2 separate regions of the Homo sapiens genome follow, and region 2 is linked to region 1. Evidence: fine-mapped expression QTL. Tissue or cell type: whole blood. Region 1 holds a variant in brackets; the other region holds the start of a gene. All regions are shown on one strand. Distances are between the middles of the regions.

Region 1 (8,099 bases):
TTATTCACTGATGTGTCCTAAGTCCCTGGAATAGGACCTGACACACAATAGATACTCAACTTGTGGAGCAAATGGCACCTGTCACTGTGGGTGATGATCTCTCTCTCTCCCTCTGTGTACACGCTCCCCACGCACCCATCGACCTCCCTGAGGATGCCTCACTCAGAATAGCAGTTCCATGAGAGCTGGGAACTGCCTATCTTGTTCATACTTGTGCTCTCAGCACGTGTCTGGCACAGAATAGGTACTCAGTAAATATGTGTTGGCTGGATGGAAGGGACCTGAAACAGAGGCCAGGGAGAGTGGGAAGACAGGCCAGTCACTGGCAACAGGCCCGTAATGAGAGGATTCTCGAGGAAGAGAATGGAAAGGTGTCCGCTGGTCATTATGAGGCCCCTAAGATCCTCCTATCTGAACAGAAGAGATGCTCCTTCAGATCTGTTACACATGTACACACGCACACAATCCAGGACCATCACACACCAGTATATAGAAGGAGAGAGCACTGGAAACTGCTGCCAGGTTGATGATGGCATCAGGCTTGACCACTAGGGGCTTCCTGGAGGAGGTGGCCTAGGGCTAGACCAGCACCGGAGCAAAAAAGTTCAGGACATCTCCAGTCAGAGGTAAAGAAGGATGAAGGAAAGAAAGAAGGGGATGTGGCAGAGGTCAGGGAAGGCCCAGGAGAGAGGCAGGGCTGACTGAGGCTAGGACTGAGACTGGGGCTCGTCAAGGTCAGAAGCCTTGGGTTTGGGGTCCAGTAGGACTACACAGGATACAGAGTTGGAGGAAAAGCCTGGATTTTCCCAACCAAAATCCCTAGAGGAAGGAATTTTCTGTGTCTTCCTCTGGGGTTTGCATTGACAGGCACAGGGCAGATGGTCAGTGTTGTCCTCTGATTGAGGGCGCCCAGCGGGAGTGCCGTGGCAGGATCTAATGCCCAAGTTCCCCTCAGAACGTGGCGCCGGGAATGTGATTCAGTGTATAATTCCAGCTGGTACTTTTTTCCCAATAAAAAGAAACGCCTTCATTCTCAAAGAAGATGATTATAAAAGAAAAAAAAAATCTCTTGACTTACAGAAAGAACCATGCCCAAATCTAGTGACCATGGTTCGCACAACATGAAAATCAGATGAGAGGGAGCACGAGTGAAAGAAGCTCAAACACAGGGCGTGAGGTGCCCCTGCCAGCCTCGGTCCCTGACCACACGGCCCCGCCTTTGGCTGGAGGGAGAGCCCTGGCTGTCAGCCGCACGGTGTGGAAAGCCCAGAAGGAAAGCAGTTTTGAAATTTTACTTGTGATTGATACACTTTTGGCCACGTTGGCTATTTTCAGAGCCTAGCTCCCCCATCCTCTGTCACAGACACCTTTGAGTTCTTTAAATGGCTGTATCTTTTGTTGTCATATGGACACATGGTCTTTATAGTACATTCAGACAGAACAGGTTTTGTGAGCAAAGGATATCGAGCTTTTTTCCCTGATATACAAATTGCAAGAGTTCGTTCTCCTCATAAGCCTGTTACTTTCTTATACCTGTGAACGGCACCTCCATCCCCACAGCTGCTCAAGCCCAAAGACGCATTCATAATCTGACCATCCCTTCGGGTGATCAAAGCCATCAGCAATCCCGGGGCCTGCTCTGCTTCAAAAATACTTCTGTCCTTGTTCCCCTCTTTCTACCATCTGGCTTCAGCTCCATGGCTTCTCCATTCCTCTCCAGCTTCTCCAATTCTTTTTCCTCCCAGCAGCCAGAAACCACTTTAATGCCACAGGAAGGATCATGCTACCTCTGTGCTTAAACCCTCCCTGCACACAAAATAAAGCCTGCCTTCATCGCCTGTCCACAAGGCCCGGCCTTGTCTGCCTCCTGACCATCTCTTCAGCCTCCTTGCAGGCCCCTCTCACCCTCTGCACACAATAATCTCTCCTTCCTTGAACATATCAGTGTTGTGTCCGCTTAGGGACTTCGTACTTGCTGTTCCCTCCTTCAGGAACATGCTGCCTCCACATCTTTGCATGGATACCTCCCCCTCACCTTTCAGGATTCTGTTCATATGTCACCTCCTCCAAGAGGCTTTCCTTGAACACCTCTCCCCTCCTCCCTTGCAATATAAATGGCATCCCCAAGTTGCTTGCATTCCACTCTTTTAATTTTCTTCATGGTATTTATCTCTAGCTAAAATTTATTTGTTTACAGATTGACTTTCTCTCTCTAGGATTTCAGGGGAGCAGGAACCTTGCCTGGGTGATTGTCGAGACTGTTGGCCCCATGACTAGTGCTTAGGGTTCAATAAATATTTGTTAAGCGAATGAATAAGTGAATGAATGAATGAATGAATGCTCTAACCCTGCCTTTGCTGAACTTCTAGAGATTGTGCAACCTCTCTTACACAATCAGGAGCTTGGTAACCTTGTTTGCACTCTCATTCCAAGGATTTCAGACTTGCTTTGCCAATCTTGTTGCAGCTCATCAATTCTTGGCAGCCCCACCCCTCCCAGCTGGGCCCAGGACGCACAGTAGGTCCTCAGCGCACACCCATGGGACTGAGTTGGTGAATGTAGCCTGGCTCTTGTCCTGATTATCTGGGTGACTTCAGGCAAGTCAGTATGCCTTTCGTTGTTTATAGTTCTCATCTGTAAAGATAAAGAGGTTTGTACAGATGGTCTCTAAGATTCTGTTTGACTTTCAAAGACCAGAACAGAATTAACCAGTTCAAAAGAAGAGCTGTGGGTGGGTGGGGGTTTTAGGTGGATTGAGAGAGGATGGGTGGGGGTAAGGGAGAGGGTAGTGAGGAGTTTGGAGGGGGATTAAATGGGACTTTCTTCCCAGGGCCTTGAGGACTGGGCTTTGGGGGACTCTCAGGGTGAGGTTTGATCCCTGAAGTTCAGGCTTGGCCCCTTGTTATTTCCTGCTTTCCTGGGGCTGTGGCTGTGGCTGTGGGAGACTTGACCCAAGAACGGACAGCCTCTCTTTTTCTGCTCTGCCATAGAGCAGAGCCCCAGCCTGGAACACACGAGCCCTCTGAAATTACCTGCACAGTCTTGGGGGTATGTGAATGAATGTCCTTTGGGGAAAGAAAGTCCTTATCTTTTATCAGATTCTCCAAGGGATTTCTGCCTTACAAAGTTTAGAAACCTGTATTTAGAAGGCCAGGCTGAACTAAGAAGATAAGTCATAGGAGGAGGAGAAGGAAGAGGAGAGAGGACCCAAATCCTTTTATTTTAAAATGTCTTTTCTGGACCTTAGTTTCCTCATCAGTAAAATTAGAAGTTTGGGTGATCTCTGGTAACATCCAGCATTTAGAATAATAATGCCTAATTTTACTTTGTACATTATCTCCTTTGCTCCTTTCAAAAGCCATGTGACTGTGTTTCTCATCAGCATCCCTGTTTTTCAGGTGACAACACTGAGGTCTGGTGACTCACCCAGGGTCATGCAGCCTGTGAGTGGCAGAGTGAGCC[G/A]GGAACCTGGCTGCTGGCTGAGAAATTTCAGGGCTTCTTCTTTGAGTGCCCAGCAGGATTGCAGCACCACATGGCTCTGGGGCTCTCCCACTGGCCAGTCTGGGCTGAAGGGAATGAAGTGAAGAGAGGGAGTTTCCCCTAAAGGTTGGTTGTTAATGATATTGCAGAAGAGGAAGAGGTGGTAGGAGGAACAGGTCATGCCCAAGTGGAAATCCTCAGCTCCTTCCAGCTGATCTAGAAGGCCTCCTGGACAAGGGGACACTTGGGGAGGTGGGGAACTGGGCCTCAGCTTGGGGAAAGGGAGGCATTCCTAGGCAGCGGAAAGCATCCTTTCTGGTGGGTAATCCAGTATTTATGGTGTTTTTGATGACTGGAATGCGGGTGTGGGTTCCCTATTGGACTTTGGGCTCTGCTGCAGGCCTCAGGCTGGGGAGACATTTTGGAATGTGTCCCTTGCCTTCTAGGGCCACCTTTGGCCTCACCTGCTGTTTACCCTCTTCTTCCTCCCCCTCTTCCCCCCTTGGCAGCCTGAGCTAGTGCCAGGAAATTGTTGGTCAAAGGTGAGGTCACCAAGAACCTGGAAAAACAACAGGTCTCCATTAACCTTGTTTACCTGCCAGGTAACTGTTGCTTTACAAAGGTTCTTTCGCCCCTTCTTTCATTACCTGCATTTCCTGCTCCCGTAAAAGCTCAGATCAGCTGAGCAGATTTTGGTGGGGGGTTCCTTCAAGATAAACCCTCCTGAGAGGCTTTCCACTCTTCTATTTTCTGGCATGTGGTCTGTATCTATTAGGTCATATCTCAGACTGTGTGGTCACCTGAGTTTAGATGCTGGCTGCCCAGCGAGACTGTCAACAACTTGAGGGAAGGGCTGTGTTCATTTACATTCTCAGGGCCTGGCTTCTAATAATGTCTGCTGCTTCAATGGATGGATGACTGAATGAATTAATGAATGAGTGGGATGGATGTCCTGGGTTTCTATTTCAGAACTCACCTCCCCTAGGAGGTCTCCTGGGGTTACTTCCAGCCTATTCTTTGCATCTTATTCCCATCTTTGGTCTGCCTAATCTGTCCTGATTTCTTCATGCTGTTTTTCTCAGAGTTTTTCATAAGGAACCAAAAACAACTGAGCCATGTGGCCCTCTGACAACCTCCCCAGGGCCCTGCAGACAGCAGACTCCTGATCAATGGTCACTAACTGACCAGCTTATGGGATCTGGGCCAAAGGAGAGCCAGGGAGGTCAGATTGTTTCTTGAGGTCACCCAGCTGTGAAAGAACTTGGGCCCATCCTTGGCCAAACCTGCACATCATCACTCAGACCTGGGGCTTCCTTCTGTGTGCAGAGCTGATATTTAAACACCATTGATGTCAATGCATCTATTCACTCAGAAAATATTGGGACCGTGCTTGCTCTGGCTCTCTGTGTTGAAGATGATACAGTTCCTTTACCTCAAAGAGGTCACAAACCAATCAGGGAGATGAGATATTTACCAGAGCAGTTCCTCAGCACTGGAGCCAAAGGTTGGGACAGTCAGAGAAGGCTTCCCAGAGGCGCTGGCACTTGAGGCCCTTGAAAGATTCTTAATCACTTATTTGGTGTAAGCTGTTTAAGAGAGCTTTGCTCATCTTGGTTAGTCCAAGATGTGCCTGTGACCTGTTTGTGGTCCTGGTTCACAAGGAGGAGGGACAGTAGTGGCTATCCCCTGCATCAGCACCCCCTGTTCCATCACTGCTACCGAGGGCTGCAAAGCCACAGGACTAGCTGGCAGTGAGAGGGCCCGTTGCCTGCGTGTAGACACCGGGATCAGAGATTGGCTGAGACACACCAGAGGCCCCACAGTGACCCAGGGCGGAGCAGGGTCTAGAACCTAATAGTCCTGATTCCCACCCCTGTGCTCTCTCCGTGGATGCCACCACCCAGTTGCCTTTACGAGGCCAGTGCCTTCTGTGGGTCAGTACCTTGGGCTCTGGGCTGGGTGCTGGGTGTAGCTGGGGTGGTCCTTACCATGGTCCCCCTTTTCACACGATGGGCATTGAAAGGATAGCCCAGACTGAGACCCTTGTCAGAAGGAGGTGGGGTATGAACAAAGCCTAATGATCCAGGGAGAGAGGATGCCTATCAGAGAGGGTACCACTCCCCTGGACCTGCATGCATAGCGGAGTTACCATTATTCACATGCAGGGCAAGCCTATCAGAGAGGAGTCAGAGGGAGGAAGGCTGACAGAAGTGGCTCTCTGGGATTCCCAGCTGAGGCTCTCGCACTCCCGGGTCTTGTTTTCCCTAACAGCCTCAGGGCACAAAGTCCAGTGGTGTGATTTTGTCATCTCTTCCCAGGGCAGCCTTAAAGGGCCAGTGCCTCCTCTCAGGGTTAATGATTACCTGTTGGGTCACCAATAGACCCAGGTGTCCTTGTGTGTGAAGACGGTTGGGCGGATGGGTGGGAGGTGGTGAAAGAGGGGTGGCCTGCCTGAAGAGGAGGCTGGGGCTTCCTTTAAATACATCCTCATAGAGGCTGCCTCCTGGAGCTCTCCTGGTTAGCCTTGGGTCATGAGGAGGGATCTGTCTTTAATGGCTAACAGCACAGGGAACCAACCTGTAAACCCCAAAGGGAGGGTAAGATTTATCTAGGGTGCTTCCCCCCAGCTCTGACAGGACAGATTCCCACAGTAGGAGGTGGGGGACTCTCCTAGCCGAATGGGAGGTGAGGGTATGTCTTAGACCTCAGAGGGTCAGGCCTTGGCTAGGGCAGGACCCTGGGACCCTTACTATCTCCTTCCCCTATACACATTCATGTCCCACCAGACCTGGAAGGTGCCCCAGTGTGACCCTGACTCGACCCGACCACAGTCGCAGTCTTTCTCCCATCTTCCATCTCTGTCTCACCTCCCAGCCTTGGAAAACACTTATATTAGTAATAGGCACTAATAATGATAACAAAGGCTGCCCTTTGTTGGGTCCTGGGCATAGCACGTAGATTCACTTGTAATCTGTACAAGTGCCCTGTGAGAAGGGTGCATATCACACCCCCATTTTACCAGAGGAGAAGGGAAGCTCAGCTCACATCACTGCTCAAGATCACACAGAGCAAGAGGCAGAGCAGACTTGACCCTGGTCTGTACCGTGTCAAAGTCCATGCTTTTTGCCACCATGGGTGATGGGCTGTGTGCCTGCTGTTTCCCCACCACAGTGGCTCAGCCAGTCCTCCAGAAAGCTTTCAAGGCTTACCACATCCAGCCCATGTCCCCCTCTGCTTCCTCCCCTAGTGAGAATCTATTGGCCCTGAGCTCAGCCAGGCTGGATTCATCTGCCACCACCCTGGGCTCTGTGTCTGCAGGCTGCTTCTGCCTCTGTGCAGCCCGGTGGCTCCCTAGGGGCAGGGCAGGGCCTCTGACTGGCAGGGAGGAGGCACAGAGATGGACAAGATTATCCTCTCAGGAAAGCAGCTGCAGAAAGCGCTGTTTCTCCTTCTGGGAAGGCTTTATCTCAAGCTAGTGCTCCTTTCCTCCTTGTGATTCACAGACCTCTCATGATAGTTTGAACGTGTCTTGTTTCAAGTGTTCAAATCTAAAGACTTCCATCAGATTCCTGACCGCGGCTTTTTCACAGTTATTATCTGTGTCATAACATTGCATACTTGCGGCTTATCATTTTCCAAGCTCTGCATACGGGTTTGGCAGAGCAGGTTTCACTGATCCCACTAGACAGGTGAGGAAACTGAACCCTAGAGCAGGGAAGTGACACATCTAGAACACGGCCAGGCTTGGTGGCTGAGGCCAGCTCTGCCGTCACACACTTGGCTCTCCCCGGTGCTGCTTTCTTTGCTGCCTCTGCTGTGTCTGCATCAAGGAGACTTTCTCCTCTGAGGCTGGCTGGCCTTGGAGTTATACTTTGCGCCTAGCTGCTTCTTCTATTTTTTTAAAGATGTGTTTTATTGAGGTAAAATACATGTAACAAAATGTACCCTCTTAGTCGTTTTTAAATGTACAGTTCAGTGGTATTAAGTACATTCACATCGCTGTGTAACCATCACTACCATGCATCTCTAGGACTCTTCATCTTGCAAAACTGAAGCTCTGTATTAAACACTAACTCCCCATTCCCCTCCCTCCAGTCCCTGGCAACCACCATTTTACTTTCAGTTACTATGAATTTGACTATCCCATGTATCTCAAATAAGTGGAATCACACAGTATTTGTCTTTGTGTGACTGGCTTATTTCACTTAGCATGATGTCCTCGAGGTTCATTTATGCCGTAGCCTGTGTCAGAATTCCTTCGTTTTTCACCTGGGCAACATAGTGAGAACCCCCTATCTATAAAAACAAAAAACAAAACAAAACAAAACAAAAAAACAAAAAGAAAGAAAGAAAAAGAAAAGAAAAAAGAAAAAAAATTGCTGAGTGCGGTGGTGTGCCTGTGATCTCAGCTATTCAGGAGGCTGAGGTGGGAGCATGGTTTGGGCCCAGGAGGTTGAGGCTGTCGTGGGCTGCAATCATGCGATGGCACGCCAGCCTGGGCAACAGAACAAGAGCCTATCTCAAAAAAAAAAAAGGAATTTCTTCATTTTAAATATTTTAAATGTTAAATAATCTTGCTTGTCCTTTTATCTATTGATGGACCCTTGGGTTGCCTCCAG
Region 2 (8,099 bases), 34 kb before region 1:
GTGTTGGGGAGATGCAATTCATCAGGGACAGCTTAGTGTCAGGGGATTAGACTGGGGCCCATGAAGGAGAGGCAGAGGCTGATGGGCCTAGGGGTGGTGTGGGTAGGTGAGCTTCCCCAGACAGTGACTCTGCCCTGCCCTCTCTCCAGCTAGGTCCTCTTCCCCATTCCTTCCCCCTTTCCTGACTGGATCCTCTTGGGAGAGTTACCCTCCTTGGCTTCCTCTGCTCCAATCTTTTTATCAGTTGGCCATCATTACTTATCATTACCTCAAGTCAAACCTCCAGATCCACATGGGGCTAGGACATTGGCACTGGACCAAAGAGGCCCTTTCCTTTGCTTTCTCTTTGTCTTTTTAATGCTTTGTTGCAAAGACCTAGGCGGGGAGAGAGAGAGAGAGAGAGAGACAGAGATTGACCCACAGTCAGGGTCAGGGAATTGAGGGGAACCAACCCAATTCTCTCTCCTTCAATTCACCAGGTTTGTATCCTGCCCTTCCTGCAGATCAGTGTCCTGCTAGTCACCTGGGGGTCAGGGGATGGAGTGAAGGACAAGACCTCCTTCCATTGCAGTGAAGCCACTTGGAGAAATGTGTGGAAAACAGCAAGACCCAGTGACTCTCTCCTCACCTTCTTTCCAATCTCAGGAGAGATTTTGTCCCTTCATCCACCGGCTTCTAGATTAACCACCCACACCCACACAGGCGAGAGTTTCCCTGAATATTGGAGGTGACAGGACATCAGGACAAAGTACAACTATTGTGCCTTGGCCCAATCACTACTTTCTTTGTCTGGGGCCGCCGCTGGCTCCTGGCTGCCTTTCGCACTTTTCTCCACCCCCACCCCTTTCTCCCCTTCCCCCTCACCTGGAACACCTTCCCCTTCCTCCTTGGCTCCTTCTGAACTGCCTTCAGAGCCACAGACTGTGGGGAGTGGCCACTGCGCTCCCAAGGTGAGGCCCTCCAAGCGGGGCCGAGTTTGCCCCTCAACTGGGAGCCAGCATGACCTCTGTGTGGGCTGCTCTCTGCTTCACTGCCCCTTCCCCCAATCTGCTAGGTGACCCTGGGCCCCTTTGTGCCCTCTCTGGGCCTTCGGAGGATTCTTTGGGGAGACAGTCTGCTCTGACGCCCCTTCCCCTGCAGCAAGCAGCCTGGGGAGGGAGGTGAGGATAAGTGAAGTCAAGTTGTTCAGGGGGCTAAGCCCATGGAAGGGAAGATGCCACAGAGATACATGTGGTCTTGTGATTGTTGTTTTGTGCTTTTTCCCCTTTTTTGAAAGCTCAGGTGACTAGGTGACTTGAGCTTTTAATTTGGTGACAATGTGGGCACTGGCTGAGTCCTTAAGAGTACATTGTTGTAAATGCCGGTGACAACACACTGGGGCATGGGATCCAGAGTTAACCCCTCCAGGTCACAGCCAGGTTATATCTCCACAATGAAGGGGGGAGGTGGGCCATACTTTCTCGCCCTAATGAAGGTAGCTCAAAAACCCCTAGGCCAGGTTGTAATCCTAGCCTTATATAAAAGGAATTCTGTGCCCTCACTCCCCTGGATCCCTGGGCAAAGCCCCAGAGGGAAACACAAACAGGTTGTTGTAACACACCTTGCTGGGTACCACCATGGAGGACAGTTGGCTTATGGGGGTGGGGGGTGCCTGGGGCCACGGAGTGACTGGTGATGGCTATCCCTCCTTGGAACCCCTCCAGCCTCCTCTTAGCTTCAGATTTGTTTATTTGTTTTTTACTAAGACCTGCTCTTTCAGGTCTGTTGGCTCTTTTAGGGGCTGAAGAAGGCCGAGTTGAGAAGGGATGCAAGGGAGGGGGCCAGAATGAGCCCTTAGGGCTCAGAGCCTCCATCCTGCCCCAAGATGTCTACAGCTTGTGCTCCTGGGGTGCTAGAGGCGCACAAGGAGGAAAGTTAGTGGCTTCCCTTCCATATCCCGTTCATCAGCCTAGAGCATGGAGCCCAGGTGAGGAGGCCTGCCTGGGAGGGGGCCCTGAGCCAGGAAATAAACATTTACTAACTGTACAAAGACCTTGTCCCTGCTGCTGGGGAGCCTGCCAAGTGGTGGAGACAGGACTAGTGCACGAATGATGGAAAGGGAGGGTTGGGGTGGGTGGGAGCCAGCCCTTTTCCTCATAAGGGCCTTAGGACACCATACCGATGGAACTGGGGGTACTGGGGAGGTAACCTAGCACCTCCACCAAACCACAGCAACATGTGCTGAGGATGGGGCTGACTAGGTAAGCTCCCTGGAGCGTTTTGGTTAAATTGAGGGAAATTGCTGCATTCCCATTCTCAGTCCATGCCTCCACAGAGGCTATGCCAGCTGTAGGCCAGACCCTGGCAAGATCTGGGTGGATAATCAGACTGACTGGTCCCACTCTTCCCACAGGCCTCAGAGCCCCAACTTTGTTCCCTGGGGCAGCCTGGAAATAGCCAGGTCAGAAACCAGCTAGGAATTTTTCCAAGCTGCTTCCTATATGCAAGAATGGGATGGGGCCTTTGGGAGCACTTAGGGAAGATGTGGAGAGTTGGAGGAAAAGGGGGCTTGGAGGTAAGGGAGGGGACTGGGGGAAGGATAGGGGAGAAGCTGTGAGCCTGGAGAAGTAGCCAAGGGATCCTGAGGGAATGGGGGAGCTGAGACGAAACCCCCATTTCTATTCAGAAGATGAGCTATGAGTCTGGGCTTGGGCTGATAGAAGCCTTGGCCCCTGGCCTGGTGGGAGCTCTGGGCAGCTGGCCTACAGACGTTCCTTAGTGCTGGCGGGTAGGTTTGAATCATCACGCAGGCCCTGGCCTCCACCCGCCCCCACCAGCCCCCTGGCCTCAGTTCCCTGGCAACATCTGGGGTTGGGGGGGCAGCAGGAACAAGGGCCTCTGTCTGCCCAGCTGCCTCCCCCTTTGGGTTTTGCCAGACTCCACAGTGCATACGTGGGCTCCAACAGGTCCTCTTCCCTCCCAGTCACTGACTAACCCCGGAACCACACAGCTTCCCGTTCTCAGCTCCACAAACTTGGTGCCAAATTCTTCTCCCCTGGGAAGCATCCCTGGACACTTCCCAAAGGACCCCAGTCACTCCAGCCTGTTGGCTGCCGCTCACTTTGATGTCTGCAGGCCAGATGAGGGCTCCAGATGGCACATTGTCAGAGGGACACACTGTGGCCCCTGTGCCCAGCCCTGGGCTCTCTGTACATGAAGCAACTCCAGTCCCAAATATGTAGCTGTTTGGGAGGTCAGAAATAGGGGGTCCAGGAGCAAACTCCCCCCACCCCCTTTCCAAAGCCCATTCCCTCTTTAGCCAGAGCCGGGGTGTGCAGACGGCAGTCACTAGGGGGCGCTCGGCCACCACAGGGAAGCTGGGTGAATGGAGCGAGCAGCGTCTTCGAGAGTGAGGACGTGTGTGTCTGTGTGGGTGAGTGAGTGTGTGCGTGTGGGGTTGAGGGCGTTGGAGCGGGGAGAAGGCCAGGGGTCACTCCAGGATTCCAATAGATCTGTGTGTCCCTCTCCCCACCCGTCCCTGTCCGGCTCTCCGCCTTCCCCTGCCCCCTTCAATATTCCTAGCAAAGAGGGAACGGCTCTCAGGCCCTGTCCGCACGTAACCTCACTTTCCTGCTCCCTCCTCGCCAATGCCCCGCGGGCGCGTGTCTCTGGACAGAGTTTCCGGGGGCGGATGGGTAATTTTCAGGCTGTGAACCTTGGTGGGGGTCGAGCTTCCCCTTCATTGCGGCGGGCTGCGGGCCAGGCTTCACTGAGCGTCCGCAGAGCCCGGGCCCGAGCCGCGTGTGGAAGGGCTGAGGCTCGCCTGTCCCCGCCCCCCGGGGCGGGCCGGGGGCGGGGTCCCGGCGGGGCGGAGCCATGCGCCCCCCCCTTTTTTTTTTAAAAGTCGGCTGGTAGCGGGGAGGATCGCGGAGGCTTGGGGCAGCCGGGTAGCTCGGAGGTCGTGGCGCTGGGGGCTAGCACCAGCGCTCTGTCGGGAGGCGCAGCGGTTAGGTGGACCGGTCAGCGGACTCACCGGCCAGGGCGCTCGGTGCTGGAATTTGATATTCATTGATCCGGGTTTTATCCCTCTTCTTTTTTCTTAAACATTTTTTTTTAAAACTGTATTGTTTCTCGTTTTAATTTATTTTTGCTTGCCATTCCCCACTTGAATCGGGCCGACGGCTTGGGGAGATTGCTCTACTTCCCCAAATCACTGTGGATTTTGGAAACCAGCAGAAAGAGGAAAGAGGTAGCAAGAGCTCCAGAGAGAAGTCGAGGAAGAGAGAGACGGGGTCAGAGAGAGCGCGCGGGCGTGCGAGCAGCGAAAGCGACAGGGGCAAAGTGAGTGACCTGCTTTTGGGGGTGACCGCCGGAGCGCGGCGTGAGCCCTCCCCCTTGGGATCCCGCAGCTGACCAGTCGCGCTGACGGACAGACAGACAGACACCGCCCCCAGCCCCAGCTACCACCTCCTCCCCGGCCGGCGGCGGACAGTGGACGCGGCGGCGAGCCGCGGGCAGGGGCCGGAGCCCGCGCCCGGAGGCGGGGTGGAGGGGGTCGGGGCTCGCGGCGTCGCACTGAAACTTTTCGTCCAACTTCTGGGCTGTTCTCGCTTCGGAGGAGCCGTGGTCCGCGCGGGGGAAGCCGAGCCGAGCGGAGCCGCGAGAAGTGCTAGCTCGGGCCGGGAGGAGCCGCAGCCGGAGGAGGGGGAGGAGGAAGAAGAGAAGGAAGAGGAGAGGGGGCCGCAGTGGCGACTCGGCGCTCGGAAGCCGGGCTCATGGACGGGTGAGGCGGCGGTGTGCGCAGACAGTGCTCCAGCCGCGCGCGCTCCCCAGGCCCTGGCCCGGGCCTCGGGCCGGGGAGGAAGAGTAGCTCGCCGAGGCGCCGAGGAGAGCGGGCCGCCCCACAGCCCGAGCCGGAGAGGGAGCGCGAGCCGCGCCGGCCCCGGTCGGGCCTCCGAAACCATGAACTTTCTGCTGTCTTGGGTGCATTGGAGCCTTGCCTTGCTGCTCTACCTCCACCATGCCAAGGTAAGCGGTCGTGCCCTGCTGGCGCCGCGGGCCGCTGCGAGCGCCTCTCCCGGCTGGGGACGTGCGTGCGAGCGCGCGCGTGGGGGCTCCGTGCCCCACGCGGGTCCATGGGCACCAGGCGTGCGGCGTCCCCCTCTGTCGTCTTAGGTGCAGGGGGAGGGGGCGCGCGCGCTAGGTGGGAGGGTACCCGGAGAGAGGCTCACCGCCCACGCGGGCCCTGCCCACCCACCGGAGTCACCGCACGTACGATCTGGGCCGACCAGCCGAGGGCGGGAGCCGGAGGAGGAGGCCGAGGGGGCTGGGCTTGCGTTGCCGCTGCCGGCTGAAGTTTGCTCCCGGCCGCTGGTCCCGGACGAACTGGAAGTCTGAGCAGCGGGGGCGGGAGCCAGAGACCAGTGGGCAGGGGGTGCTCGGACCTTGGACCGCGGGAGGGCAGAGAGCGTGGAGGGGGCAGGGCGCAGGAGGGAGAGGGGGCTTGCTGTCACTGCCACTCGGTCTCTTCAGCCCTCGCCGCGAGTTTGGGAAAAGTTTTGGGGTGGATTGCTGCGGGGACCCCCCCTCCCTGCTGGGCCACCTGCGCCGCGCCAACCCCGCCCGTCCCCGCTCGCGTCCCGCTCGGTGCCCGCCCTCCCCCGCCCGGCCGGGTGCGCGCGGCGCGGAGCCGATTACATCAGCCCGGGCCTGGCCGGCCGCGTGTTCCCGGAGCCTCGGCTGCCCGAATGGGGAGCCCAGAGTGGCGAGCGGCACCCCTCCCCCCGCCAGCCCTCCGCGGGAAGGTGACCTCTCGAGGTAGCCCCAGCCCGGGGATCCAGAGAACCATCCCTACCCCTTCCTACTGTCTCCAGACCCTACCTCTGCCCAGTGCTAGGAGGAATTTCCTGACGCCCCTTCTCTTCACCCATTTCCTTTTTAGCCTGGAGAGAAGCCCCTGTCACCCCGCTTATTTTCATTTCTCTCTGCGGAGAAGATCCATCTAACCCCTTTCTGGCCCCAGAGTCCAGGGAAAGGATGATCACTGTCAGAAGTCGTGGCGCGGGAGCCCACTGGGCGCTTTGTCACATTCCACCGAAAGTCCCGACTTGGTGACAGTGTGCTTCCCTTCCCTCGCCAACAGTTCCGAGTGAGCTGTGCTTTAGCTCTCGTGGGGGTGGGTCAAGGGAGGATTTGAAGAGTCATTGCCCCACTTTACCCTTTTGGAGAAATGGCTTGAAATTTGCTGTGACACGGGCAGCATGGGAATAGTCCTTCCTGAACCCTGGAAAGGAGCTCCTGCCAGCCTTGCACACACTTTGTCCTGGTGAAAGGCAGCCCTGGAGCAGGTGTTTTTTTGGAACTCCAAACCTGCCCACCCAACTTGCTTCTGAAAGGGACTCTAAAGGGTCCCTTTCCGCTCCTCTCTGACGCCTTCCCTCAGCCAGAATTCCCTTGGAGAGGAGGCAAGAGGAAAGCCATGGACAGGGGTCGCTGCTAACACCGCAAGTTCCTCAGACCCTGGCACAAAGGCCTTGGCTACAGGCCTCCAAGTAGGGAGGAGGGGGAGGAGTGGCTGCCTGGCCACAGTGTGACCTTCAGAGGCCCCCAGAGAAGGACACCTGGCCCCTGCCTGCCTAGAACCGCCCCTCCTGTGCTCCCTGGCCTTGGAAGGGGTATGAAATTTCCGTCCCCTTTCCTCCTTGGGGCCCAGGAGGAGTGGAGGGTCCCGGGAGAATATTGTCAGGGGGAAGGCAGGGGGTGTCATGGGAATGGGTGAGGGGGCTGAGGTGCAGAATCCAGGGGGTCCCTGCAGGAGCCGCAGTGGTAAGCTGTCCAGCTGGAAGCCTGGTAACTGTTGTTTTCTCTTGAGAGGGGCTTCCTGTGACCTTGGCTGTCTCTGGGAGCAGGGCTGGGGTACCTGAGTGGGGTGCATTTGGGGTGTGTGGGAAGGAGAGGGAAAGAAAGATGGACAGTGGGACTCTCCCCTAGCAGGGTCTGGTGTTCCGTAGGCTAGAGTGCCCCTCTGCTCTGCGAGTGCTGGGCGGGAGGGGAGTTGGTGAGAGCTGGAGACCCCCAGGAAGGGCTGGCAGAAGCCTTTCCTTTTGGGTGCTGTCAGGTCCGCATGTCTTGGCGTGTTGACCTTCACAGCTTCTGGCGAGGGGAGGAATGATCTGATGCGGGTGGGGAGGGTTAGAGGAGGCCTCAGGCCTAAGGTGGTGCAGGGGGCCCCCTAGGGGCTGGGCAGTGCCAAGGCATAAAAGCCTTCCCTGGTCCCTGGTGGCATTTGAAGGTGCCCAGGTGAGAGGGGCTTGGCACCTCCTCACCCTGGGAGGGAGAAGAAACCAGGGAACAGGTAGGAGTGGGAGACAGGTGAGGCTTTGGAAATCTATTGAGGCTCTGGAGAGATTTGTGTAGAGAGGAAAATGTGGTTCTCCCCCAGGGTCTCCTCCTGGGTTTTTACCCTCTAAGCAACCTGTGGGCATGCTGGGTTATTCCTAAGGACTAGAAGAGCTTGGATGGGGGAGGGTGGTTGGTGCCCTTCGGTCCTCGGCACCCCCCTCCGTCTCCAACACCAGCTCACCCTGGTATTTGTCATGTCAGCAGGAGAAGGTCACCATGTTGTTTTTCTCGCCCCTAGTCCTTCCTTCCTGCCCCAGTCCAAATTTGTCCTCCTATTTGACCTTAATACTTACCATGGCTTTGGACCAGGGAACTAGGGGGATAGTGAGAGCAGGGAGAGGGAAGTGTGGGGAAGGTACAGGGGACCTCGACAGTGAAGCATTCTGGGGTTTTCCTCCTGCATTTCGAGCTCCCCAGCCCCCAACATCTGGTTAGTCTTTAACTTCCTCGGGTTCATAACCATAGCAGTCCAGGAGTGGTGGGCATATTCTGTGCCCGTGGGGACCCCCGGTTGTGTCCTGTTCGACTCAGAAGACTTGGAGAAGCCAGAGGCTGTTGGTGGGAGGGAAGTGAGGAGGGAGGAGGGGCTGGGTGGCTGGGCCTGTGCACCCCAGCCCCTGCCCATGCCCATGCCTTGCTCTCTTTCTGTCCTCAGTGGTCCCAGGCTGCACCCATGGCAGAAGGAGGAGGGCAGAATCATCACGAAGGTGAGTCCCCCT

The links. PIP is the estimated chance that this variant, and not a neighbour inherited with it, causes the effect.
Region 2: VEGFA starts here. The variant in region 1 is fine-mapped to the expression of VEGFA in whole blood (INTERVAL, PIP 0.96).

What each region holds. Positions count from the first base shown.
Region 1 is chr6:43,800,753-43,808,851 of GRCh38, forward strand. The region is part of intron 1 of LOC105375070 (a long non-coding RNA gene); the gene reads left to right. Among named protein-coding and RNA genes, the nearest start is that of VEGFA, 35 kb to the left of the region's middle. RefSeq lists a silencer at 6,840-7,134. The variant G/A (reference allele first, on the strand shown) is at 3,463.
Region 2 is chr6:43,766,306-43,774,404 of GRCh38, forward strand. VEGFA (vascular endothelial growth factor A) reads left to right here and starts at 3,906. Exons shown (of 8, transcript NM_003376.6): 1 at 3,906-5,007; 2 at 8,036-8,087. The coding sequence starts at 4,402. RefSeq lists silencers at 3,719-3,968, 4,346-5,285, 5,356-5,875 and enhancers at 4,331-5,096, 5,097-5,862, 5,863-6,628, 6,629-7,394.